Homo sapiens: one gene and its partners. The protein of the gene in region 5 purifies or fractionates together with the protein of the main gene of each other region. This does not show direct contact. Each region holds a gene or a part of one and is shown on either strand. Other genes may lie near its edges.

Region 1 (3,500 bases), on a different chromosome or scaffold from region 5:
CCACGGCACTCCAGCCTGGGCGACAGAGTGAGACTCCCATCTCAAAAAGAAAAAAAAAAAGTAAAATAGGTACTGTTACTGAGATTCTACTGTTGAGGAATTTGAGGGTGAGAGAGGGGAAGTTTCAGAAACCAAAGTTACACAGCTGTGAAGTCAAGATTCTAACTCAGTTTTTTTGCTTCGCGGTATAAGCTTTGAATCACCTTGCAGTACTTAAAGCTGCAGCTTCAAGTGAATCATGATAATGCTGTTTAATCCTATCATTACTTTTTCTTGGGGAAACCTCGCGCCACTTCAATTTTTTTCAAAGATGTACCATTTTAACCATTTAAAAGTTCACAATTCAGTAGTGTTAAGGATATGCACATCGTTGTTCCACATTTCTGGAACTCTTTCATCTGGCAGCGCTGAGACTGTAGCCCCCAAATACTGATATCTCCTCCTCCCTCGCCCTCCCCCGGTAACCATCTTTTCTACTTTGTTTCTATGATTTTGACTACTTTCAATACTTTATTTTTTATTTTTTTTGAGATGGAGTTTCACTCTTGTTGCCCAGGCTGGAGTGCAGTGGCACGATCTCAGCTCACTGCAACCTCTGCCTCCCGAGTTCAAACAATTCTCCTGCTTTAATTTCCTGAGTATCTGGGATTACAGTCATGGGCCACCATGCCGGGCTAATTTTGTATTTTTAGTAGAGATGGGTTTCTCCATGTTGGTCAGGCTGGTCTTGAACTCCTGACCTCAGGTGATCACCCCCCATCGGCCTCCCAAAGTGTTGGGATTACAGGCGTGAGCCACCGTGCCTGGCCTTGCCTGTCTTTTTCATCTGAGCCATTCTAGCGGGGTATAGTGGCATCTTGTTAGTTTTAATGTGCATTTCACTGATGACTCATAATGGTGAGCGCTTACATGCTTGTCGGTCTTTGTATGCCTGGATTTGTAAAGTGTCTGTTCAAGACTTTTGCCCATTTAAAAAATTGGATTGTTTGTATTTTTAAGTTCCTTACATATTTATTTATTTATTTATTTTTGAGATGGAGTCTCCTCTGTTGCCCAGGCTTGAGTGCAGTGGCGCGATCTCGGCTCACTGCAAGCTCTGCCTCCCGGGTTCACGCCATTCCCCTGCCTCAGCCTCTGGAGTAGCTGGGACTACAGGCGCCTGCCACCACGCCCAGCTAATTTTTTTTTTTGTTGTATTTTTATTAGATATGGGTTTCACCATGTTAGCCAGGATGGTCTCGATCTCCTGACCTCGTGATCCGCCCGTCTTGGCCTCCCAAAGTGCTGGTATTAACAGGCGTGAGCCACCACGCCCAGCAGTTCCTTACATGTTTTTTTTTTTTCAGATGGAGTCTTGCTCTTGCTCTATTGCCCAGGCTGACGTATTTTTTATACAAGCCGTTTGCCAGATATATATGTGTCGCAAATATTTTTTCCTAATCTATGGCTTAACTTTATTTTTTGGTAGTGCCTTTTAATAAATCAATACTTTTAATTTTTCTTAACCATGCTCTGGCAAGTTTTATTAAAGAAATTTTCGGCTGGGCGCGGTGGCTCACACCTATAATCCCAGCACTTTCGGAGGCCGAGGCGGGTGGATCATGAAGTCAGGAGTTTGAGACTACCCTGGCCAGTATGGTGAAACCCCGTCTCTACTAAAATTACAAAAATTCGCCAGGCGTGGTGGTGTGCACCTGTAGTCCCAGCTACTTGGGAGGCTGAGGCAGAAGAATCGCTTGATCCCGGGAGGCAGAGGTTGCAGTGAGTCGAGATTGCGACACTGCATTCCAGCCTGGGCAACAGAGTGAGACTCTGTTTCAAAAAAAAAAAAGAAATTTTCGCAGGGTTTATTTTTATCTTTTATTTTTTGTTGTTGCCTAAGCAACATCCGCTTTCCTTAATTCTGAAAGCATATCTATAAATAAGTCACCCAAAGGCCAAATAGATGCATTTGTTTTGTCTGGTTGTTAATGTTTTCTTTTTAAAAAAATATTTATGTATTTATTTAATTTTTGAGACAGGATCTTGCTCTGTTGCCTAGGTTGGAGTGCAGTGTCACAGTCGTGGCTCAGTGCAGCCTCGTGTTCAAGTGATCGTCCCACCTCAGCCCCTGAAGTAGCTGGGACTACATGTGCGCACCACCATGACCGGCTTGTTTTTTGTAGAGACAGGGTTTCATGGCATTGCCCTGGCTAGTCTTTAACTTCTGGGCTCAAATGATCTGCTCTCCTTGGCCTCCCAAAGTGCTGGGATTACAGACGTAAGCCACTATGCTGGGCCACCAAGATACTATTTATTTCCCTGAATATGACGTGGACTGTTCCTGTAGGCTGGTCCCTTCACCTCAGGACCCTCTTTGCTGGTATTGTTTGGGGCTTCTGCGCCTGTATATGGGGATGGGACCTGACCCTGCTGATCTGGCCAGCACTGCCAGGGTTTCCTGTTGCCCATCTCTCGGTAAAACATCCCTTATAAACCTTTGCAAGGAAAAAACCTCTGTTTTCTTCCCTCCATCCCATTTTTCCTTAATGTGCTACCCTCGTCTGTATTCATAGGAACTTTATTTAACACTTGAGAACTGAGAGTAATTGACATTTCTTTCTTGGCTGTCCTTCATTCTGTGCACCCAGACCTATTGCTTTTTCTACCACATTCTTTTTCTCTTTTAGAAAATTGAAATGTAAGTCACATCACATCAAATGCCCCATTTTAAAGCGTGCAGTGCAGTGATTTTTAATGTATTCTCTGTTTTGTGCAACTACCATCTATCTAATTCCACACATTCCTTTTCCCTTTTTAGTGCTTGGTGTTTTTTTTTTTTCTTAACTTTCTTCATCACTGTAAGCTTTCCCCACCTGGCTGAATTTCACATGATAAAACCAGGGGAGGTAAAGTGACCAAAGATGATGCCCTTTGCTTCTCTGGCCTTTGCTTTCATTTCATTAATTTTTTTTTTTTTTTTTTTTTTTGAGTCAGAGTCTCGCTCTGTCACCCAGGCTGGAGTCTGGGTGTATATGTATGAACACAGTGGGGTGTGTGGGTGTGTGTGAACATAGTGGTGTGTATGTATGAACACAGTGGGGGTGTGTGTGCGTGAGCACAGTGGTGTGTGTATGTATGAACATAGGGGTGTGTGTGAGCACAGTGGTGCATATGTATGAACATAGGGTGTATGTGTGTGAGCACAAGGGTGTGTGTGTGTGTGTGCGTGCATGCAGAGTGGTAGGGTTCCTGAAGCAGAGGGACACTTGGGGCAAAGAGACCTTGGATTGTGTTCTTCTTGTTGGTAGAATAAGCTTAAATCACTTCATGTATCCCAGTTTCCTCAGCTGTAAATGGGAATTATAATGATAGGTCATCAAACTACCTGCAGACTTTTTTTGTTGTTATTTCGATAAAATATTACACATTTGAAAATGCTCCCAAAACTAACATATTGGACAGATGCGAATTCTTCTTTCCTTTTTTTTGAGATGGAGTCTTGCTCTGTTGTCCAGGCT
Region 2 (3,483 bases), on a different chromosome or scaffold from region 5:
CTTGGCTCACCGCAAGCTCCGCCTCCCGGGTTCACGCCATTCTCCCGCCTCAGTCTCCTGAGTAGCTGCGAATACAGGTGTCGGCCACAACGCCCGGCTAATTTTGTTTTTGTATTTTTATTAGAGATGGGGTTTCACCATGTTAGGCAGGATGGTCTTGATCTCATGACCTCGTGATCTGCCTGCCTCGGCCTCTCAAAGCACTGGGATTACAAGTGTGAGCCACCGTGCCTGGCCATGATTTTCTTAATGACATTTTTTCCTCTAGCTTACTGTAAGCATACAGTATTTTACAATACATACACAAAATATGTGTTAATTGGCTGTTTATGTTATCAGCAAGGCTTCCAGTCAACAGTAGGCTATTAGTAGAAAAGTTCTGGAGGAATTAAAGTTATATGCAAATATTTGGCTGCACAAGGGTTGGTGCCCCTAACCTCTGCATTGTTCAAGAATCAACTGTATCCAAATGAATAAATACACTGCAGAACAAGAACACGTTGCAGCTTAGTAATAGTTTTACTTATTAACTTACTTAAAAAGAGATAATGAACATTTGTGAAATTGTTTACAATTGAGATATCCATACACACAAGTCATGTGCTGTGTGATGTTTTGGTCAGTGACTGCATATATGATAGTGGTCCCATAAAATTATGATCCTATATTTTTACTGTACTTTTCTGTTCAGATACACGAATACTTACCACTGTGTTACAACTGTGTACAGTACTCAGCACAGTGATGTGTTGCACAGGTGCGTAGCTTAGGAGCAACAGGCTGTACCATATAGCCTAGGTGTGTAATAGGCTATACCATCTAGGTTTGTGTCAGTGTACTCTATGATGTTCACGTCACGATGAAATCACCCAAGACACATTTCTCAGAATGTATCCCCATCATTAAGCAACACATGACTGTATATATACATTTACTAATGTTTGTTATTTTTAATACAGAAAAGTTTCTTCTTTGCTTTTTAGAAATTTTATCAGTTACAAAAGGAAATAACATTTAGAAAACAGTTTCAACTTTCATAGGCAAAACATACACATGAACCACACATAGGGCTGAGTGGATGTTTCCTTATTGCTAAGTCCATAGCCTCTAGTATGATGCCCAAGTGTCATAACTACACTCCCACATCAGCAAACTCCTCCCTCTTAATATGCTCAGTGATTTCTATCTCACCCTTCCTTACTTCCTTTGCAATTCAAGTAAGAAAACAAACAATTTAGATGTTCGAGTATAGGAAATATTTGCCGAGACCAGCTTGGTCATGGAGACCCTAACCCAGAGGCGCTAGAGAAATTAAAGACACACACCCAGAAATATAGCATGCAGAGTGGGAAATCAGGGGACTCACAGCTTTCAGAGCTGAGAGCCCCGAACAGAGATTTACCCATGTTTATTGACAGCAAGCCAGTGATAAACATTGTTTCTATAGATTATAGATTAACTAAAAGTATTCCTTCCCAAACGAAACAAAGGCATGGGGTCTGGCTAGTTATCTGCAGCAGGAACATGTCCTTAAGGCACAGATCGCTCATGCTATTGTTTGTAGTTTAGGAACGCCTTTAAGCCGTTTTCCCGCCCTGGGTGGTCCAGGTGTTCCTTGCTCTCATTCCGGTAAACCTTCAGCATGGCGTCATGGCCATCATGAACCTGTCACAGTACTGCAGAGATTTTGTTTATGGCCAGATTTGGGGGCATATCCCCAGCAAATATTGGTTAAGTCTGTGCTTCAGACTAGATTTTTCAAGTCTACTGGCTTGTTTGAAAAACGCTTTTAGACAACACATCAGGTTTGTAACTTTTCACAAGTTTAAAATATTTCAAAGGTCTTTGAAAATTATAAAATCTTGAAATATCTCTATTTTAGTTTTCCGAGGGGTGCTGTTTTGACAGATTTGAAATTTTTTTATTTGAATAAAAAGCCATCACTCTTTCATTCAATTTAGTGCCTAGATGTTTCCTTAGAGCCTGGGTTGTTGTTCCAAGAATCTGTGGAGAGTACCAACTTAGCCTGCTGCTGCAAAGACGAAGGAATCCTTTCTCAGAGAAAACTCAAGACTGAATATGGTAGACTGGATTTTCCAGAGATGGCTGTGGACATAGGCTATCAAAGGGTTTTTGGGATACACAGTCCCACATGCCCCTTCCCTCCCATTGCATTCACAATGGATCACCTTTCGATTAAATTTCACCAGCTCATCCCCGGTAATTTTTTATTTGACTGGAAACATGGGCTTTTAAAACACACACAGGGCTCTCCTTTAGCCTGCAGAATGTGGGTATATCTTTACTATTTTCTCCTGCTCATAAAAATACATGCTTTTCACTAAACGAGTTAAATAACCACCCATAATTCACCCACAAGTTTGGTGTACTTTCTTCCAGTATTTTAAATATGCAAAAATATCGTTTTATTTGTATTTACTACCTGTGTAACTATATGCTTAGCCTTTTTCCCCCCATTTTGAGTTTATTTTTAATTCAGGGATTAGGTAGCCAGAGTCTGGCCTAGTGACTTCTGACCTTTCACTTGTGATCTCTTATCCATCTTCGGCCAGAGGCCTCTTTTTGTAGCCCAGCCTCATCTCTTGTGGACCTTGAACAAATTTCTCCAGCTACTGTCAAATGCCTGAGATTTGTTAACCACACCATTTATTTTTGCTAACACTAGTTAACAAATAAGCTTTTCTAGAAGAGCTAGGTGGAATATGTCATCAGAGACTTGGAATGAAAACAAAATACCCTTGGTAACTTACTTGCACCTGCGTCTTCCTCAGACTGCAAAGTGGTCACCAGCAATTCAGAGAGGCTCCAGTAACAAGCAGCTTCACTTTTTATCACGTAACCTAACCATCTTGAGGTTATGTGTCAAAGGAAGAAGACATTTCCTTTTCTAAAAAGTCAACTGCTTTCTTCTTTACTAAAACAATTTAGGGGCTGGGCGCAGTGGCTCACATCTGTAATCCCAACACTTTGGGAGGCTGAGGCAGGTGGATCACGAGGTCGAGAGTTCAAGACCAGCCTGGCCAAGATGGTGAAACCCTCTCTCTACTAAAAATACACTAGGCGTGGTGGCACGCGCCTGTAATCCCAGCTACTCGGGAGGCTGAGGCAGAGAATTGCTTAAACCCGGGAGGCAGAGGTTGCAGTGAGCTGAGATCACACTACTGCACTCCAGCCTTGGTGACAGAGTGAGAGAGACTCCGTCTCATAAAAAAAAAAAATGTAGGTTTGTCCTTCCAAATTGTTTATCAAATTTTGGTAGATTCAGGAGTTGGGTAACACACAGTAACTGGGCAGCTGATATAAAGTCTGTATTTTTATAACTACTCAAGAGCCAGGAAGCCAGCTTTCTGCTAGCATCTTTCTCCTAACATACCATTGGCACATGAAGTTATTATTTCAGAGCTTAATTATATTTCCTGACTACACAAAAAGCCAATGCATTAAAAAAAGGCCCACCTTTAT
Region 3 (3,500 bases), 1.5 Mb from region 5:
ACAATTAGGCTTAAAGAAATTCAATAACTTGCTTAAATATCACACAGCTTGGCCAGGTGTGGTGGCTCATGCCTGTAATCCCAGCACTTTGGGAGGCTGAGGTGGGAGGATTGCTCAAAGCCAGGAGTTTGAGGCCAGCCCTGGGCAACACGGGTAGACTCTGTCTCTACAGAAAATTAAAAAATTAATACACAGTTCAGGTGTGGTGGTGTGCCCCTGTAGTCCCACCTACTGGGTGGGAGCAGGGGCTGAGGTGGATCACTTGAGTCCAGAAGACTGAAGCTGCAGTGACCCCTGATTGTGCCACTACACTCCAGCCTGGGAGAAAAAGCGAGACACTGTCTCAAAAAACAAACAAACAAACAAACAAACAAACAAACAAACCACAGCTTGTAAATAGTAGACCAATATGCCAGCTCAAGTGTCTCTGATTTATGCTCAATATTAACTGCCAAAGTCTTGGCACTTCTTTCTTTCACTCTCTCCTCCTCAGCCTCCTTGCTAGCTCTTCTTCCACTCAAACCTGTAAATATTCACTAAGATTCCTTCTTTGGGCGTCTTGTCATTCCACATATATCAAAGGCTAATTCACTTCCCGATTTCAATCAGCGGCAAAGTCTATCAGCATTATCTTTAAAATATATCCAAAATCAAACCCTTCTCACCACGGCAAATGCTACTACTCTAGTCTTTCTTTCATACAGATTATTGTCAAAATTCTTCAGCCCTTGCCTCACTATAGTTTATTCTCAACAAAGTAACAGAGTGATCTTTTGAAAATTTAAGTCAGAACATGTCACTCCTCTAGTCAAACATCATCCATTGGTTTCGTATCTCACTAAGGGTAAAAGGCTGAATCCTATCACCTAAAAGGCCCTGCAGCTTTGCCCTCCCCTACCATTACCTTATTACCATTGCTCACTCTGATAAGCCAAACTGGTCTTGTGCTATTCCTCTAACACTTTGCACATAGCTCATTCCTTCACGTCCTTCAACTCTTTTTGTAAACATCTCCTTGTTAATGACTTCCCCAGTCACTCTATTTAAAATTACAATACCCTTCCCATTGTACTCCCTATTCCTTTCTCCTATTTTTCTCTATGTGCCTTATCAATCACTATTTGACATACCATAAATTTTACTTTTTATTTTGCCTTCCCTCAGTAAAATACAAGCTCTATGAGAGCAAGGATTTTGTCTCTGTTGTTCACTGCTGTATCTTTGGCACCCACAGTAACTGGGACATGGCAGGTGCTCCATATTTTCTGAATAAATCCCAAGTCTTCATCATCAGCTTTCAGCTCTTGAGTGAAAGACCCACATTTCCAACTGACTACCTGACATGTCCAAGTGGATGTCCCACAGACACCTAAGCCTCAAAATGAACTTACCTCTTCTGTGCAAAACTGGCTTCTCCTCCTCCCAACCCAGACTAAAGGTATCACTACCCAAACCCTGGAGTCATCTTTCATTTTTCCCATATCTAACTGATCTATAAATACTTGAAATTCTACTACATCCTAAATGTCTTTCAAATTCATTCCCATTCTTTTGAAGTCTTGACATGCTTATTCACTCAACAAATCGTTATTGAGCACCTACTGTATTATCAAGTATTATCTTGGATACAGGGAAATAATCATGAGCAAAACATAAGAGTCCTTCCCATTCCGAGCTTACAATCTTGCAGAGAACAAACCAATCAATGATCAGATAGCGTTTAGCTGATTTTTTTTTTTTGAGACGGAGTCTCACTCTGTTGCCCAGGCTGGAGTGCAATGGCGCGATCTCGGCTCCTGCAACCTCCGCCTCCTGGGTTCAAGTGATTCTCCTGTCTCAGCCTCCCGAGTAGCTGGGATTACAAGTGCGCGCCACCAGGCCCAGCTACTTTTGGTATTTTTAGTAGAGATGGGGTTTCACCATATTGGTCAGGCTGGTCTCAAACTCCTGACCTCGTGATCTGCCCACCTTGGCCTCCCAAAGTGCTGGGATTACAGGCATGAGCCACCGTGCCCGGCATGTTTAGCTGATTTTTTAAGAACACACAGGGTCTTATGAAATTATATAAAAAGTGGCCTGACCATGTTTGTGGATAGAACATAGAAAGCTTCCTTGGGTAAATAATATTTGAGTGAAACACCTGAAAGGGGTGTAGTAATTAATTAGATAAACGTGTTAGGGAGGAAGGGCAGCCGGAGTACTACAGCCGAAAGAAAACTCCAATTGCAGCATATGTGAAGGTTCTAGGTTGAGGTAAGAGGGAGAAGCAGTGTGCAATGATTAGAACATGAATTTTGGACACAGGCTGCCTGGAATTTTTTTTTTTTTTTTTTTTTTGAGACGGAGTTTCACTTTTGTTGCCCAGGCTGGAGTGCAATGGTGCCATATCGGCTCACCGCAACCTCCACCTACGCGGTTCAAGTGATTCTCCTGCCTCAGCCCCCCGAGTAGCTGGGATTACAGGCATGTGCCATCACGCCCAGCTAATTTTGTATTTTTAATAGTGACGGGGTTTCTCCATGTTGGTCAGGCTGGTCTCGAACTCTCGACCTCAGGTGATCCGCCTGCCTCGGCCTCCCAAAGTACTGGGATTACAAGCGTGAGCCACTGCACCCAGCCTGCTTGGATTTAATATACAACATTTTAGCTGTGCAACCTAAGGCAAGTTACTCAGTTACTCTCTCTGAGCTATGGTTTTTCTTATTTTCAAATGAGGATAATACAGGTATTTACCTTACAGGGTTATTATGAGAATTAAATCAGTTAGTGTATGTAAATGGCTTCAAACAGTGCTTTGCCACATAACAAATGCTAAGTGTTGGCAATTGATGAAGCATTCTGAAGAAATTAAATAAAATAAGGCCACAGTAGTTGAAGAGTTAGTAACTATGCTGGAGAGACGGGCAGGGATATAATTTAAAGGTTTTAAGCAGGGGAATGACTCCTATAATAAATATCTAAGTGGTGAAATCGCTCCCCCTACAAATCCCATCCGCCAAGAGAATACAAGCTGATCACATCAAGCTCCTCCTTTCAAACTTCCAAAGGCTCCCAGCCCTACTTCTTACATGACAAAGGCCAGAAGTCCTTACATAACTTAGAAAGCCCTTTTCAATATCACTCTGATTTACCTTTATAGTTTACCTATTTTCCTTTCCAAACTATCTTCAACTACCAATATATTTCCTCACTTCACTTTTCAATACAAATGTCTCACTATTCTCAACACTCTGACACTACTATCACTTTCTCCTCTCCTCTGCAATAGTTCCTTTTCTAATGTTTGACTGGATATCTGATACTGTTACAGTTCAAGCCATTTTCATCCACAGTTCAATCTCTCTTTCCAAATGTGTTAGTATGGGCCAGGAGTGGTGGCTCATGCCTATAATCCCAGCACTTTGGGAGGCCAAGGCAAGAGGATCACCTGAGGTCAGTCAAGTCCAGCCGGACCAATAACATGGTGAAACCCCATCTCTACTAAAAATACAAAAATTAGC
Region 4 (3,500 bases), on a different chromosome or scaffold from region 5:
ACCCCCGCCCCTGCCCTGCTGACCTGCAGCTTGCGTCAAAAGAGATCCATGACATAAATGTCAAACTGGGGAGGACAGGAGTCTGAGCAAATCCCAGCCATGTGCCCTAGACCATGACTGTAGCAATAACTTAGGGTGGAGACAAAAAGCAAAAAGATGTAGTCCTGGGGATTGCTTCCCAGATGGAGTAGGCCAGAGGGAAACTGCAGAGGCAATTCAGGATTTGGCCCAGGTGAGGCAGGGTCTCTAGGCCAGTGAGGTCTCTCACTGAGGACCAGGAGCCTATGCCAGCCATTCTTGGGAAGGAGTCTTCATGTCTCTGGGCCTCAGTTTCCCCACCAGGTTAAACAACAGACAGGACATTAGCCTTACACACACCCATACACAGGGTGAAAAGGAAAAACACACAGAAGAGCTTATCAGGACTCCAAACTCAGGGAAGGCTGAGGAAGCAGCAAAAAGTGGGCTCTAGGGTCCAGCTGCCCGGGTTCAGACTCCAGCTCTGCTCTGCCACTCACTGGCTATGAGACCTGGGGCAAGTCACATTCCCACTCAGGGCTTGGTTTCCTCATCCGAAGGATGGAATACAAAGAGTACCTTCCCTGCTGGGCTGCCATGGGGACTGAATCATACCTAACACATGGCCCACCCTGAGATACATTCTCAACAAATGTCAGCAACCAGCTACTGTCTGACCCTGAACAGGGCAGGTGGGCCAGACCTTAGAAACCCTCAAATACACAAGTGGGATTTTCTCTGTTACAAAATGAGCAGCTAGCAGATTTCAGAGGAGGGCTGATCAGAGAATTCATGGGGGTAGGGGGTGAGGGGCGGCGGAGTAGACTAAGAAGGACCAAGATCAGGACACTATTCTTGGAGGTTATTCTGGTAGGCCTCGTGGGGCTTCAGTGTGGCTGTCATGAGAAGTATGTATGAAAAGGAAACAGGAGGAAAGGGAGGCAGGCGTGGAGGCTGTTAGCAGCCACCCAAGGCTCTGAGGCCAGGCCAGGCTGCTGACAAAAAAGGATGGGGGAAAAAGAGAAGGAAATTTCAGAAAATCCCATCCCTCCCCCAATGGTTACAGGGCCCCAGTGTCATCTCTGCTACCAGCAATAGCCAGCACTGGCCCGGTGAGCGTCTGGCCCATGATGCACACATGCAAAATGGCTGGATGACCAGTGGAATGTGCAGGACTGCTCTTCTCCCGCCCATACCCACCACTACCAGACACCCATGGCCAATGTCCCTTGGCCAAGCCGGCCTCTCTGACACTCCTCCCTCCAGACCGGGGGGCCGATGGGACCTGCCCACAGAGGACGGATCAGTGCTGGGGGATAGGAGCTGGAGGGGGAGAAGGGATGAAAGGCGCTGAGGTTGCAGGTGAGGGAGGGGTGGGGAGAAGTTGAGGGCCCTGGAGGAGACCCAGCCTGGCCTCCTGCCCGGGGCCATGGGGGGCACGTACGTCATCCTCAGTGGCTGCCTGTGGCAGCATCCTCAGCATGACGATGTTACTGGCCTTCTCCTCCTCCTCCTCATCCTCCTCCTCCTCCTCCTCCTCCCCTTGCTCGGTCCGATAGTCCTGGTCCCGATAGTCGCCGTCTCGGGGGAAGCCTGGCGGGCCGGTGGGGCTGTGCCTGTGCCGCCGCCGCCGCCTACGCTGAGTCTCGGAGCCCGGGGAGGCCTCGTAGGAATCCTGGCCGACAGAATGAGATGAGTGACACCAGACGGGCAGTCAGTCTGGGCAGGCCTAGGAGCTGGCCGCTGGCTCTGTGAGGCAGGCAGGCTCTGAAAGCCAGGGATGTGCGGGCTCCGGCTAAAGGCTCAGGCAGGCAGGGTGGGCAGGCCCCGGCCTGCAATCTTTCTGGGACTGTAAATTCTCCATGGGGTCCTTTTGGGGGCTGCCTTCAGTGGGTGGGGAGAGGTAGGTGACAGTATTGGTGTGGGGGGAACTCCCAAAGGTAGCTGACAAGACACAGCTTAAACCTCCTTGGGGCAAGATGGCCTGGGGTCAGCACACCAGACCCCACCCTTGATTTTCCTCTCCTCTCTGGCCAGCTCAGGGGGTGTGCTCAATTGCTTCACTGTACCACCGAAGGCTGCATGTCTCCTACGGTTCCACCCTGCAACCAAGCTGGGGGCATAAGAACAGCTTCAGATCTCAGCCAGAGCCAGGCAGCAGGAGCTGGTGGAGGTGGTGTGAGGGCTGCAGACACTCCCTCCTCAGTCCCTGATCCTCAGCCTTGGCCAGTCCTCCACCACACACCACGCTCAAAACGGTATGGCTGTTGGGCTCTGGGCTGTTGCCCAATCCATCCATTCCAGGACTAAGCAGAGCAGGCCTGGGGCCAAAGCCCTCCCGCCCACAGTGGGGAAGCACCAGATAACTTGGTGCTCCATTCCCACCCTGGCCAGGGCCCAGTGCTCCTGGAGACGTCTGGGCACAGCTTGACAGCTGCCACTGGAGAAGCCTGGCAGTCCACCAAAGGGGTTTTTGCCCTGGACCCTCCAGAGGGCAGTGGGCAGCTCACAGACTGCCCCCCAGGGCTGGGCTTGCAAGAACTCCCTTCCCAGCCTGCTGGACAGGAGAGCTGCCTGCTCGCATGGACCAGGTCCCTGACTGCCCCTCCAACTGGGATTCCCCTAAGGCAAGCCTGTTTCTTCCCCTCGGGTGGGGGCTCCCTGATGGTGTAAACATCGCGCCTCATCCCGCAGGCTAGGGTGAACTACCCAACATGGCACTGGCTTCTCCAGAAGGGTCCTTCCCTTCTGTCTAGGGGCTCTATCACCACTGGGAATGCCCATGGCTGGCCTCCCAGAGCTCCTCAGCTTGGTGGTCTGCAGTCCCCTTGTTGTCCTCCCAACCCCAGACGCCGGGTCCCATGGAAGAGGCTCTTCAAGTGCCCAAGTTGGCTGGGAGCGGGCAGTACAGGGTTCACAGTGAGCCATGGGCCCGAACTGAACAACAGGGAGAAAGGGAAAGAGTGGTGGCCAGGGGCCCTCAGAAGTACAGAGCCAAGCATGTGGAAGCCAGGGAGACCCAGGTTGGGAGAGGAGCCCTCAGAGAGGGGAGTGGGAACAGGCCCTCCAGGTGAGGCAAAGCCACCGAGCACAGTCTGAAGGCACGGGAGTGGAGAGCTGCCTGCACACGGTGCTGCAGCCAGACACAGAGGGCCCTTGGGAGCCCATCCCAGCCAGGCCTGGCGCAGCGCGCCCCCTCCTCACCTCCGCACTCTGCTCCTCAGATGAGTCGTCATAGTCATGCTTGCCCTCCTGGCTGCCATACTCGCGAGGATATGAACGGTAGTCCATGTCCCGGTAGTCGTGGTCTCGGCTGCGGTTCTCCCCACCATCATCCTGCGAGCGGTCAGTGGCTCCATAGCGGCCAGTCCTGTCACCACGACCACCACTAGTGGAGGAAGAAGGATGGGGAGGGATCAGAAGGTTGCCCTTTCTAAAAGGTGCAAGAGGCCCAGGTGATGTGTTCTCGTAGGGTTTTGGTT
Region 5 (3,500 bases):
GGGCAAAACATAGTCACTAATCATTCTGGCTTCCAGCTCTAGTGACCCAACCCTGTCTTCTTTCCCTCTGACCAGTACTATGACGACACCTACCCCAGTGTCAAGGAGCAAAAGGCCTTTGAGAAGAACATTTTCAACAAGACCCATCGGACTGACAGTAGGTCATTTTCCTTTCACTACTACCCGTGCTGGGGGGAACCATGGTGGAAAGGGGGTGGTAACAGGGCTGCAGAGAAAGGATGAAATGACTCTGCCTTTTTCTTTTTTTTTCCTTCTTCCCCTTGTATAATAAACTCTTCAGAATGTAATGGGGAGGTGAGTGTACCTCACGCGGGAATACCATGCTGGAAGGTTGGCTGTTAGCTACCTGTCTAGTCCCTGGATTTATGAGCCTCACTTGACAAATTTAATTGCAGCTCTGCTTATTGTACCGCATCCATTAGGGCAGGTAAATGGAAGTCTGTAAAGGTGACCGCTCTGCATTTTCACCTCCGAAGGATCGACTAGTATCCTGTCTCATATACAAGTAGGGAAATAGGTATAGTGGGCAGGAACAGAGGATGGTGGTTACAGAAGATACATTTAGACTCCCCCAAGTTCATACTTCTCTTCTCCTGCCACCACCCAAAAAGTGCAGATCATCTTCTGGCTTTGGAAGTCATTACAGGCGGCCTCACCTTAGCCCAAAAGAGCTGGATACTAGGAATTCATGGTAACGCCTTCTTTTTTTTTTTTTTTTTTTTTGAGACAGAGTCTCTCTCTGTCACCCAGGCTGGAGTACAGTGGCGAGATCTCGGCTCCCTGCAACCTCCGCCTCCCAGGTTCAAGTGGTTCTCCCATCTCACCCTCCTGAGTAGCAGGGATTACAGGTGCACACCACCACGCCCGGCTAATTTTTGTATTTTTAGTAGAGACGGGGTTTCACTGTGTTGGCCAGGCTGGTCTTGAACTCCTGACCTTAGGTGATCCGCCAGGCTCGGCTTCCCAAGGTGCTGGGATTACAGGCATGAGCCACTGCGCCTGGCTGGTAACTCCTTCTTTCCTACTTCCTTATCTCAAGCCACCCACTATTTTTACTTTTTTTCCCCCACCAGGTGAAATTGCCCTCTTGGAAGGCCTGACAGTGGTATACAAAAGCAGTATAGATCTCTATTTCTATGTGATTGGCAGCTCCTATGAAAATGAGGTGAGAATCCCCACCCCTCTTTGCTATTTCTGATCCTACTTTCTAAACCACAGGCAGTACATAGCCACTGGTTTGGGGCCCTAATAGAGCCGTGTTCCTCTGGCTTCTGACCAAGCTAATGAAGTTGTCAGAGATCCCACCAGCCTCACAAACATGGCCCGGCAAATGAATCGCCTAGAAAGGAAGTTTTCCTAGATTAATCTTTTGCATCCATTAGGAAACATCATATATGTTTTAATACCTTTCCCTGAGTAGTGTTTTTTAAGATGGATTTCTGAGGTATGGTCAAGACTGCAGGGGGATACTTGCTTCTTCTATGAAGGGTCCATACCTGACTGAGTTTGAGCCAATTAGCTAACAACCTGGGTCATGTTGAAACCATACATTCTGAATGGATCACTGGAGAAGACCTTGGGTATAGTCCTAACCTGCTTCCTATATGCAGGAAAAGCTGTTTGCCTCAGATAGCAACTTCTAGGAGAATAGATAAATAAAAATAAGCCCCCAGATAATTTGAGGCAAAAGTGAAAGTTTGAGAAAGTCAACTCTTACTGAGCTCTTATTATTGGTATAAGTGCTTTGTAAAGTATATTGTTATTTAAACCTCATAGCACTTCTATGAGTTGTAGGCATTGGTGCCTTTGTTTTACAAATGAGGAAACCAAACCATGAAGAACTATATGAAATTACTTGTATGTGACCATTGAGAAAAGTACAAAAGTGGCAGTTATCTGATGTGGTTCAACCTAGTAACTTTCTCAGGGTCACACATGTAGAAAATGGCTCAGCTTGGATTCCAACCCATATCTGTCTGACTTAAAGTCCATGCTTTTTAAAAAATTTTGAGACATAGGCCGAACGTGGTGGCTCACACCTGTAATCCCAGCACTTTGGGAGGCCAAGGTGGGCGGATCACTTGAGGTCAGGAGTTCGCGACCAGGCTGGCCAACATGGCGAAATCCCATCTCTACTAAAAATACAGGCCAGGCATGGTGGCTCACACCTGTAATCCCAGCACTTTGGGAGGCCGAGGCAGGCGGATCACGAAGTCAGGAGATTGAGACCATCCTGGCTAACACAGTGAAACCCCATGTCTACTAAAAATGCAAAAAATTAGCTGGGCGTGGTGCGGGCACCTGTAGTCCCAGCTACTCGGGAGGTTGAGGCAGGAGAATGGCATGAACCTGGGAGGCGGAGGTTGCAGTGAGCCGAGATCATACCACTGCATTCCAGCCTGGGCAACAGAGCGAGACTCCGTCTCAAACAAACAAACAACAACAACAACAAAAATTAGCTGGGCGTGGTGGTGGGCGCCTGTAATCCCAGCTACTTGGGAGGCTGAGGCAAGAGAATTGCTTGAACCTGGGAGGTGGAGGTTGCAGTGAGCTGAGATTGCGCCATTGCACTCCAGCCTGGGTGACAGAGCCAGACTCTCAAAAAAAAAAAAAAAATTTGAGACAGGGTCTTGTTCTGTCTCCCAGGCTGGACTGCAGTGGTGCGATCTTGGCTCACTGCAACCTCTGGCTCCCAGGCTCAAGTGATTCTACCACCTTAGCCTCCCAAGTAGCTGGGACTGCAGGTGCCCACCACCATGCCTGGCTAATTTTTTTTTGTATTGTTTGTAGACAGGGTTTTGCCATGTTGCCCAGGCTGGTCTCAACTCCTGAGCTCAAGCAATCGGCCTGCTGCAGCCTCCGAAAGTGCTGGGATAGAGTCAGAGTCTAGACAGGGTCTAGACGTTACAGGTGTGACCCACTGTGCCCAGCCAATTAAAGTCCATGCTTTTTACACTAACTCTGAAGCCTTCCTCTGACCTCAGCTATTGCTTGGTTAGTAATTTCTCTACCTAAGACATCAGGTAACACATATACAGTTGGTGAAGACATTGTAGAGGACTGTGACAGGGAAGTTCTGTTTAAACTTTTGGCTAAAAGATGTTGAATTGTGGAATCATGTAGCAGAATTTATTTCTGTGAGAAATCACAGATCCTTTTCCTGTTGTGCTCTCACTTCCACTTTATGTTTTTGGTCCTTTGTGAAAGCCTGTGTCTTTTGATGTTTAATGAATTAGGAGGTTTTGTTTTTAGGTAGCAGCTTTCAGGGCCTTGAACCTTATCCTTCTGCCTCCTCTGTTTCCCAACAGCTGATGCTTATGGCTGTTCTGAACTGTCTCTTCGACTCATTGAGCCAGATGCTGAGGTGAGCAGGACATTCTTTTTTTTCCCCTCAAGTTATGATGGAAAGAGCAGGGCATTGTTGATTTCTTTTTGGGAGATAAAGTAACCATTCTTCAGGCCCAGGGATTGTAGGGGAT
Region 6 (3,500 bases), on a different chromosome or scaffold from region 5:
AAAAAAAATTTTATAAATAAATAAATAAGCAACCCAATAAATAAATAACCAAGCCACTGGCTTTTGGAAGATTTTTAAATAAAAAAGATACCATCCCTTTCCTAATCCAGTAGGACTCAAAACCGAACATTTTTCGTTAAGTTCATAATTTTTTCAAAGTTCTTGCTTTTCAATGAAGTAAATTAATCTAGAGGGGGTGAGAAGTGAGAATCACATAAAAATTATGTCTGAAGAGCATGTAATTAGAAGTTGCCGACCAGGCGCAATAGCTCATGCCTATAATCCTAGCACTTTGGGAGGCCGAGGTGGGTGGATCACCTGAGGTCAGGAGTTCAAGACCAGCCTAGCTAACATGGCAAAACACTGTCTCTACTAAAAAAAAAAAAAAAAATACAGAAATTAACTGGGCATGGTGTCAGGCACCTATAATCCCAGCTACTCTTGGGAGGCTGAGGCAAGAGAATCACTTGAACCCAGTGGGCAGAGGTTGCAGTGAGCCAAGATCACACCACTTCACTCCAGCCTGGGCAAAAGCGTAAAAATCTGTCTCAAAAAAAAAAAAAAAAAAAAAAGTTGCCAAAGGGGAACACAATCAGTATGTCTAAGTTGGAATGTTTTTGCATTAAAGGGCTATTTTTGGGCTGGGCACGGTGGCTCACACCTGTAATCCCAGCACTTTGGGAGGCCGAGGCAGGCGGACCATGAGGTCAGGAGTTCGAGACCAGCCTGGTCAACATGGTGAAACCCTGTCTCTATTAAAAATACAAAAACTAGCGGGCCGTGGTGGCACACACCTGTAGTCTCAGCTACTTGGGAGGCTGACGCAAGAGAATCACTTGAACCTGGGAGGCGGAGGTTGCAGTGAGCCAAGATCATGCCACTGGACTCCAGCCTGGGCAAGAGAGCACAGCGAGACTTTGTCTCAAAAAAAAAAAAAAAAAGCGGGGCGGGGGCCTTTTTAGACATGGAAACAAAATATTAAGAATAAATATTAATATCCTAAAGGATAATAAAACATACAGTCTATCAGAAAACAACAGCCAACGGAGTGGCCACTGTCTCATGTCTTCACTATGAAATTCTTCCAAACTGAGATATTTTACAACAGAAGCACAAATATCTGCCCATTATCAACCCTCAGGCTCTTCAGCAGCACCACTTACCTGCTCCAACACATATGCGGCACCAAAATCAATAGCTCCGCCCAGCTCACGATATTGACCAGAATACCTGATGTAGCCCCAGGTGAGGAGTGCTATTAACAGTAGTCCAACCATACAGTTGAACAACTGGGCTACAACCTCAAGACCTATGAAGCCAGTGAGGCCTGAGGCTATGTACAAAGCTACAATGCCCGTGAACAGCACTGCAGGGGTTCGGAAGGTGCTGAAGACGTTCTTGCTACCATTGTGCTTGCAGAAGTTCTCATATAATTCCTTGATTTCCTCCTCCAGCTCCTGCTGGTAACGAAAGCTGAAATCCTTCCCACCCATCTTCTTGGTCTTCTTAAAATGGTCCAGAGCAAGTTGTTTGAATTCACAGTGCTTCTCCTCTAGAATGTCTGGAGACAAATAAGGTTTCTCTCCCCCACAAACCTAAAAAGAACAAAGAAACAATATGTTAAAAGATCTCTTCAAAAACAAGTGCCAAATAAAACATGAAAAGATAATGAAAGGATTAGAATGTTTTAAGATGTTAACAATGTATTAATAAGTTAACTTTTAAAAGATGACTAAGACCAATAAAGTCTAGTTTCACTTCCTCTGAAAAGCACACTTAAAAAACCAGGGTGATAATATCAATTGGAAAGAGCAGTGACACTGGGACGGGTGCGGTGGCTCACGCCTGTAATCCCAGCACTTTCGGAGGCCAGGGCGGGCAGATCACTTGAGGTCAGGAGTTTGAAATCAGCCTGGTAAACATGGTGAAACTCCGTCTCTACTAACACAAAAAAAATTAGCCGGGCGTGATGGCAGGCACCTGTAATCCCAGCTACTCAGAAGGCTGAGGCAGGAGAACCGCTTGAACCCGGGAGGCGGAGGTTGCAGTGAGCCGAGATCGCACCACTGCACTCCAGCCTGGGCGACAGAGTGAGACTCCGTCTCTAAAAAACAAAAGCAAACGGTCGACTTCTGCAGGGCCCAGGTGAGAAAGGCCCACCTGTGTCCTGGTTGAGGGTCCTCAGGGTTCTTTGGGACCCGAGGATTCCTGAAATCATGGATCACCCACATACGCTTTGAGACATGCTTTAATTTTTTTTTTCTGGAAGCCCTGCGACTTCCCTAAAAATTAAATGAATTATAGAACAGATCTATGACCAATGGTGGCAGAGTCTACATAGAACTATGCTTCGTGGTGCTCTGGGGAAACCTTCTGACTTGTTGGCTATGCTATTCAGTATGGCTGTATAGCTCACTGTGCTTCTGAATACGTTGGTGGTGTTGTCATGTGTTCTGGACCATCAATGGAGCCTACAATTCAAAATTCAGATACTGTCTTTGCACAAAATCTTAGTCGACATTTTGATAGTATCCAAAGAGGTGACATTGTGATTGCAAAAAGCCCAAGTGATCCAACATCAAATATTTGTAAAAGAGTAACTGGTTTGGAAGGAGACAAAATCCTCACCACTAGTCCATCAGATTTCTTTAAAAGCTACAGTTATGTCCCAGTGGGTCATGTTTGGTTAGAAGGTGATAAATCTACAGAATTCTACAGATTCCAGTTACTATGGACCTATTCCATATGAACTAATAAGAGGACGAATCTTCTTTTAAGATTCGGCCTCTGAGTGATTTTGGATTTTTATGTGCCAGCCTTAATGGCCACAGATTTTCTGATGATTAGTAAGCATTTATTCTTTTGACTTGATTATTGTCTCCTGCTCATGTGAATTTATTACTCCCATTGAAACTATGTACTTACCAATAAACTATTTGCTATTCAAAACAAAACAAAACAAAACAAGAACAAACAAACAAACAAAGAAATGGTAATAATTAGAAGGCCCCCGTTACCAGGACAACCTGAATATAAGTTTATTGCCTCATCACTTAAAGATACATTAAGTAGGATCAAGTTGGGCTTTTGAAGTCAGCAACAATGCCCAGATTATAGATATTTCAGAATAAGGCGTATGTCCCACGTACCTCTTCCATGTTGTTATAATAAATGTCCTTGGCAGAGGCTGCAGCTGCTAAGTTGTTGGCTTCAGCAGTGGCCTTTTAAGAGAGAAAAACGTGAACTGTAAATCCTTCCTCTTTTAACATTCCTCCACAAATAACCTAACAAAAATCTTCTCTATTCCCCATTCTTCCTTTTTTATTAACCTTCTATTTTTCTAGATTTCCATATAGTTCAACTGATGAAATAGAATACACTTTTTCTGCCAAATTTTCTACCAAAAAAAGGTAGAAGTTCATATACATAGAAATATGTATTCTTATACATAAGAATCTTTAGCAAAAATTAAATCTCCAAAATTCAAGGAAAATATTATT
Region 7 (3,500 bases), on a different chromosome or scaffold from region 5:
CTCCTGAAATTATTCCAAAACACTGAGGAGAGAATTCCCCCTAACTCATCCTATGAGGGCGGTATCACCCTGATACCAAAACCAGACAAGGACACAAAAAAATAGAAAACTACAGACCCATATCCCTGATGAACAAAGATGCAAAAATCCTCTACAGAATACCAGCAAAATGAATCCTACAGCACATCAAAAAGATAATACAGCACGATCAAGGTGGGATTTATCCCAGGGATGCAAGGAGGGTTCAACATATAAAAATCCATATATATGATACACCACATAAACAGAATTAAGAACAAAACACATGATCATTTCAACAGACTCAGAAAGGACATTCAATAAAATTCATCATCCCTTCATGATAAAAATCCTCAATGAACACACCTCAACATTAGGCCACATATGACAAACCCACAGCCAACCTCACACTTAACAGGGAAAAGTTGAAAACATTCCCTTTAAGAACTGGAACAAGACAAGGATGCCACTTTTATCACTCTTACGTGTAATAACATAATACTAGAAGTCTTCACCAGAGCAATCAGGCAAGAGAAAAAAATAAAAGGCATCCAAACTGGAAATGAGTAAGTAACATTATCCCTGTTTGCTAATGATATGATCTTATATCTCAAAAATCCTAATGACTCCACCAAAAAACTCTTAGATTTGATAAATGAATTCAGTAATGTTTCAAGATAAAAAATTAATGTACAGAAATCGGTAGCATTTTCATATACTGATAATGATCTAGCAGACCAAATCTAGAAGGCAATTCCATTTACAACAGCTAAAAAAAAAAAAAAACACCTAGAAATATATTTAACCAAGAAGGGGAAAGCTCTCCATAAGGAGAACTTCAAAACAACGATGAGAGAAATGGTAGATGACACAAACAAATGGAAAAGTATCCCATGCTCATGAATTGGAAGAATCAATATTGTTAAAATGACCATACTGCCCAAAACTATCTACTAGTTCTAGACACTCCCAATCAAATTACCAATGTCATTTTTCACAGAATTAGAAAAAAAAAATCCTAAAACTCATATGGAAAAAAAAGGGAGCCCAAATAGCCAAAGCAATGCTAAGCAAAAGGAATAAATCTGGAGGCATCACATTACCTGACTTCAAATTATACTACAAGGCTAAAGTAACCAAACCAGCATAATACTGGTATAAAAACAGACACATAAGTCAGTGGAACAGAACAGAGGACCAGGAAATAAACCCACATACCTACAATCAACTGATCCTCAACAAAGTCAACAAAAATAAACACTGGGGAAAGGACATCCTATTCAATAAACGGTGCAGAAAAAATTGAATAGCTATATATAGAAGAATGCAAGTGGACCCATACTTCTCACCATATGCAAAAATTAACTCAAGATGGATTAAAGACCTAAACATAACACATGAAACCATACAAATCCTAAAAGAAAACTGAGGAAAGACTCTTCTGCATATTGGCCTAGGTAAAGAACTTAGACCAAGTCCTCAAAGGCAAACACAAGAAAAACAAAAATAGACAAATGGGACTTAAACTAAAAAGCTTCTACACAGCAAAAGAAACAATCAACACAATAATCTAACCTACAGAATGGGAAAAAATATTTGCAAACTATGCATCCAACGAAGGGCTAATATCCAGAATCTACAAGGAACTCAAACAACTCAAGAGAAAAACAAAAAGCCCATTAAAAAACTGGGCAAAGAGCATGAACAGACATTTTTCAAAAGAAGACACGCAAGTGGCCAACAAATAAATGAAGAAATGCTCAACATCACTAATCATCAAAAAAATCCAAATTAAAACCACAATGAGATACTATCTTACACAAGTCACAATGGCCATTATTAAAAAGTCAAAAGACAACAGATGTTGTCAAGATGTGGAGAAGAGGGAATGCTTATATGCTGTTGGTGGGAATGTAAATTAGTACAACCTTCATGGAAAACAGTATGGAGAATTCTCAAAGAACTAAAATTAGAATTACCGTTTGATCCAGCAATCCCACTACTGGGTGTTTACCCAAAGGGAAAGAAATCATTATATCAAAAAGATACTTGCACTTATACGTTTATTGCAGCCCTATTTACAATAGCAAAGATATGGAATCAACCTAAATGCCCATCAACAGAGAACTTGATAAAGAAAATGTGGCGTGTGTGTGTGTATATATGTATGTATATACTATAGACTACTACTCAGCCATAAAATAAGAATGAAATTATGTCTTTTGCAGCAACATGGATGGAACTGGAAGTGATTATCCCAAGTGAAATGACTTAGAAAGTCAAATACCATACATTCTCACTTATAAGTAAAAGCTAAACAATGGGTACACATGGACAAATGGAGTGGAATAACGGACACTGGAGACTACAAAAGGTGGGAGGGGAATGAAGGTTGAAAATTACCCACTGAGTACCAGGTTCATTAGGGTGAGAGTACACTAAAACCCCAGACTTCACCACTATATGACACAAGCATATAAGAAATCTGCACTTGTACTCTTCCTAAATACATAAAAAGTTAAATAAAATTAAAATGGAAAAATATTTCTCTTTCATTACACTGTGTGATTCTACTTATAAGAATAGGCAGAACTAATCTACAGTGATAACAATAAGAATAGTGATGGGCTCTGTGGAGAAGGTTGTTGACTTTAAGGAGGCATGAGGGAACTTTCTGGGATGATAAAAATGTTCCGTGTACTGATCGGGGTGATGGTTAAATGGGTATACACATTTGTCAAAATTTACTAAACAATACTTTTCAAACACTAAAGTCAGCTTCAGGATATACTCACAAATTTTATGTGATGATGTTTAAAACAAATTCAAAATAAGAATGACCTTTATGTTTCATTTTTAAATTCATTAAGTCTGACTCATACTGTTGATCATTAAGAGAACTGCATACTACATAGAGTTCAAATGCTAGCCACAGCCTTTATTAAGTACACCTTTGATCACTTATGCTGACTGGGAACAATTCAGATAAAAAGCTAGCAGATAATATAAATTCCCTCAATTTGGCCTTAAAATGTTTTATTTTTGACATTAGCACACTCACGTTCTTAATAACATTGGGTTAGACTAGTATTTTATAATTTTCAAGTATACAGTCCAGGATTCTATCGAGTAGTATGGGGAGGAGAAGCAGATATGTCACATTACTTTCACAACAGTTTTGATAGATTTTAAGGATTATCTCCACACTATAAGGTAATTATGTGTCACTAAAACCAAAAATATACACTTTTGATGATTTCAGTCAAAAAATATTTACTGAACCTGAACTACTAGGTTAGCATTGTTTTGGATTTATTTTTAGGCTTAGTGGTCACAGCAATGAATATTAACAAAATCCCTGTCCTCATGGAGCTTTCACTCTAGCGGTCCCATTCCTCCAAATAACCATGGTACTCTTTATTTCATACATGACTAAGCCACATTCTCACTGGTAAAAATGCCAATCTCTTGACTCTTAAAGA

What was found.
Region 1: the proteins of COPZ1 (region 5) and KLC1 fractionate together in Homo sapiens (co-fractionation; one large-scale study listed by BioGRID). This does not show direct contact.
Region 2: the proteins of COPZ1 (region 5) and CTSV purify together in Homo sapiens (affinity purification with mass spectrometry; one large-scale study listed by BioGRID and IntAct). This does not show direct contact.
Region 3: the proteins of COPZ1 (region 5) and SARNP purify together in Homo sapiens (affinity purification with mass spectrometry, with the first as the bait; one large-scale study listed by BioGRID). This does not show direct contact.
Region 4: the proteins of COPZ1 (region 5) and RBM10 purify together in Homo sapiens (affinity purification with mass spectrometry; one large-scale study listed by BioGRID and IntAct). This does not show direct contact.
Region 6: the proteins of COPZ1 (region 5) and ATL3 purify together in Homo sapiens (affinity purification with mass spectrometry, with the first as the bait; one large-scale study listed by BioGRID). This does not show direct contact.
Region 7: the proteins of COPZ1 (region 5) and LMAN1 purify together in Homo sapiens (affinity purification with mass spectrometry; one large-scale study listed by BioGRID and IntAct). This does not show direct contact.

The regions. Positions count from the first base shown.
Region 1 is NC_000014.9:103,635,711-103,639,210, forward strand, and holds part of KLC1 (kinesin light chain 1), read left to right. Parts: intron 1-3,500. UniProt on the Homo sapiens protein: Kinesin is a microtubule-associated force-producing protein that may play a role in organelle transport. The light chain may function in coupling of cargo to the heavy chain or in the modulation of its ATPase activity.
Region 2 is NC_000009.12:97,029,177-97,032,659, forward strand, and holds the end of CTSV (cathepsin L2 preproprotein), read right to left. Parts: 3' UTR 501-3,483; downstream 1-500. UniProt on the Homo sapiens protein: Cysteine protease. May have an important role in corneal physiology.
Region 3 is NC_000012.12:55,811,225-55,814,724, forward strand, and holds part of SARNP (SAP domain-containing ribonucleoprotein), read right to left. Parts: intron 1-3,500. UniProt on the Homo sapiens protein: Binds both single-stranded and double-stranded DNA with higher affinity for the single-stranded form. Specifically binds to scaffold/matrix attachment region DNA. Also binds single-stranded RNA. Enhances RNA unwinding activity of DDX39A.
Region 4 is NC_000023.11:47,169,221-47,172,720, reverse strand, and holds part of RBM10 (RNA-binding protein 10), read right to left. Parts: intron 3,407-3,500; coding exon 3,223-3,406; intron 1,694-3,222; coding exon 1,463-1,693; intron 1-1,462. UniProt on the Homo sapiens protein: Binds to ssRNA containing the consensus sequence 5'-AGGUAA-3'. May be involved in post-transcriptional processing, most probably in mRNA splicing. Binds to RNA homopolymers, with a preference for poly(G) and poly(U) and little for poly(A).
Region 5 is NC_000012.12:54,342,131-54,345,630, forward strand, and holds part of COPZ1 (coatomer subunit zeta-1), read left to right. Parts: intron 1-75; coding exon 76-157; intron 158-1,094; coding exon 1,095-1,186; intron 1,187-3,329; coding exon 3,330-3,385; intron 3,386-3,500. UniProt on the Homo sapiens protein: The coatomer is a cytosolic protein complex that binds to dilysine motifs and reversibly associates with Golgi non-clathrin-coated vesicles, which further mediate biosynthetic protein transport from the ER, via the Golgi up to the trans Golgi network.
Region 6 is NC_000011.10:63,629,877-63,633,376, forward strand, and holds part of ATL3 (atlastin-3), read right to left. Parts: intron 3,222-3,500; coding exon 3,150-3,221; intron 2,947-3,149; exon of another isoform or gene 2,318-2,946; intron 1,596-2,317; coding exon 1,164-1,595; intron 1-1,163. UniProt on the Homo sapiens protein: Atlastin-3 (ATL3) is a membrane-anchored GTPase that mediates the GTP-dependent fusion of endoplasmic reticulum (ER) membranes, maintaining the continuous ER network. It facilitates the formation of three-way junctions where ER tubules intersect.
Region 7 is NC_000018.10:59,342,266-59,345,765, forward strand, and holds part of LMAN1 (protein ERGIC-53 precursor), read right to left. Parts: intron 1-3,500. UniProt on the Homo sapiens protein: Mannose-specific lectin. May recognize sugar residues of glycoproteins, glycolipids, or glycosylphosphatidyl inositol anchors and may be involved in the sorting or recycling of proteins, lipids, or both.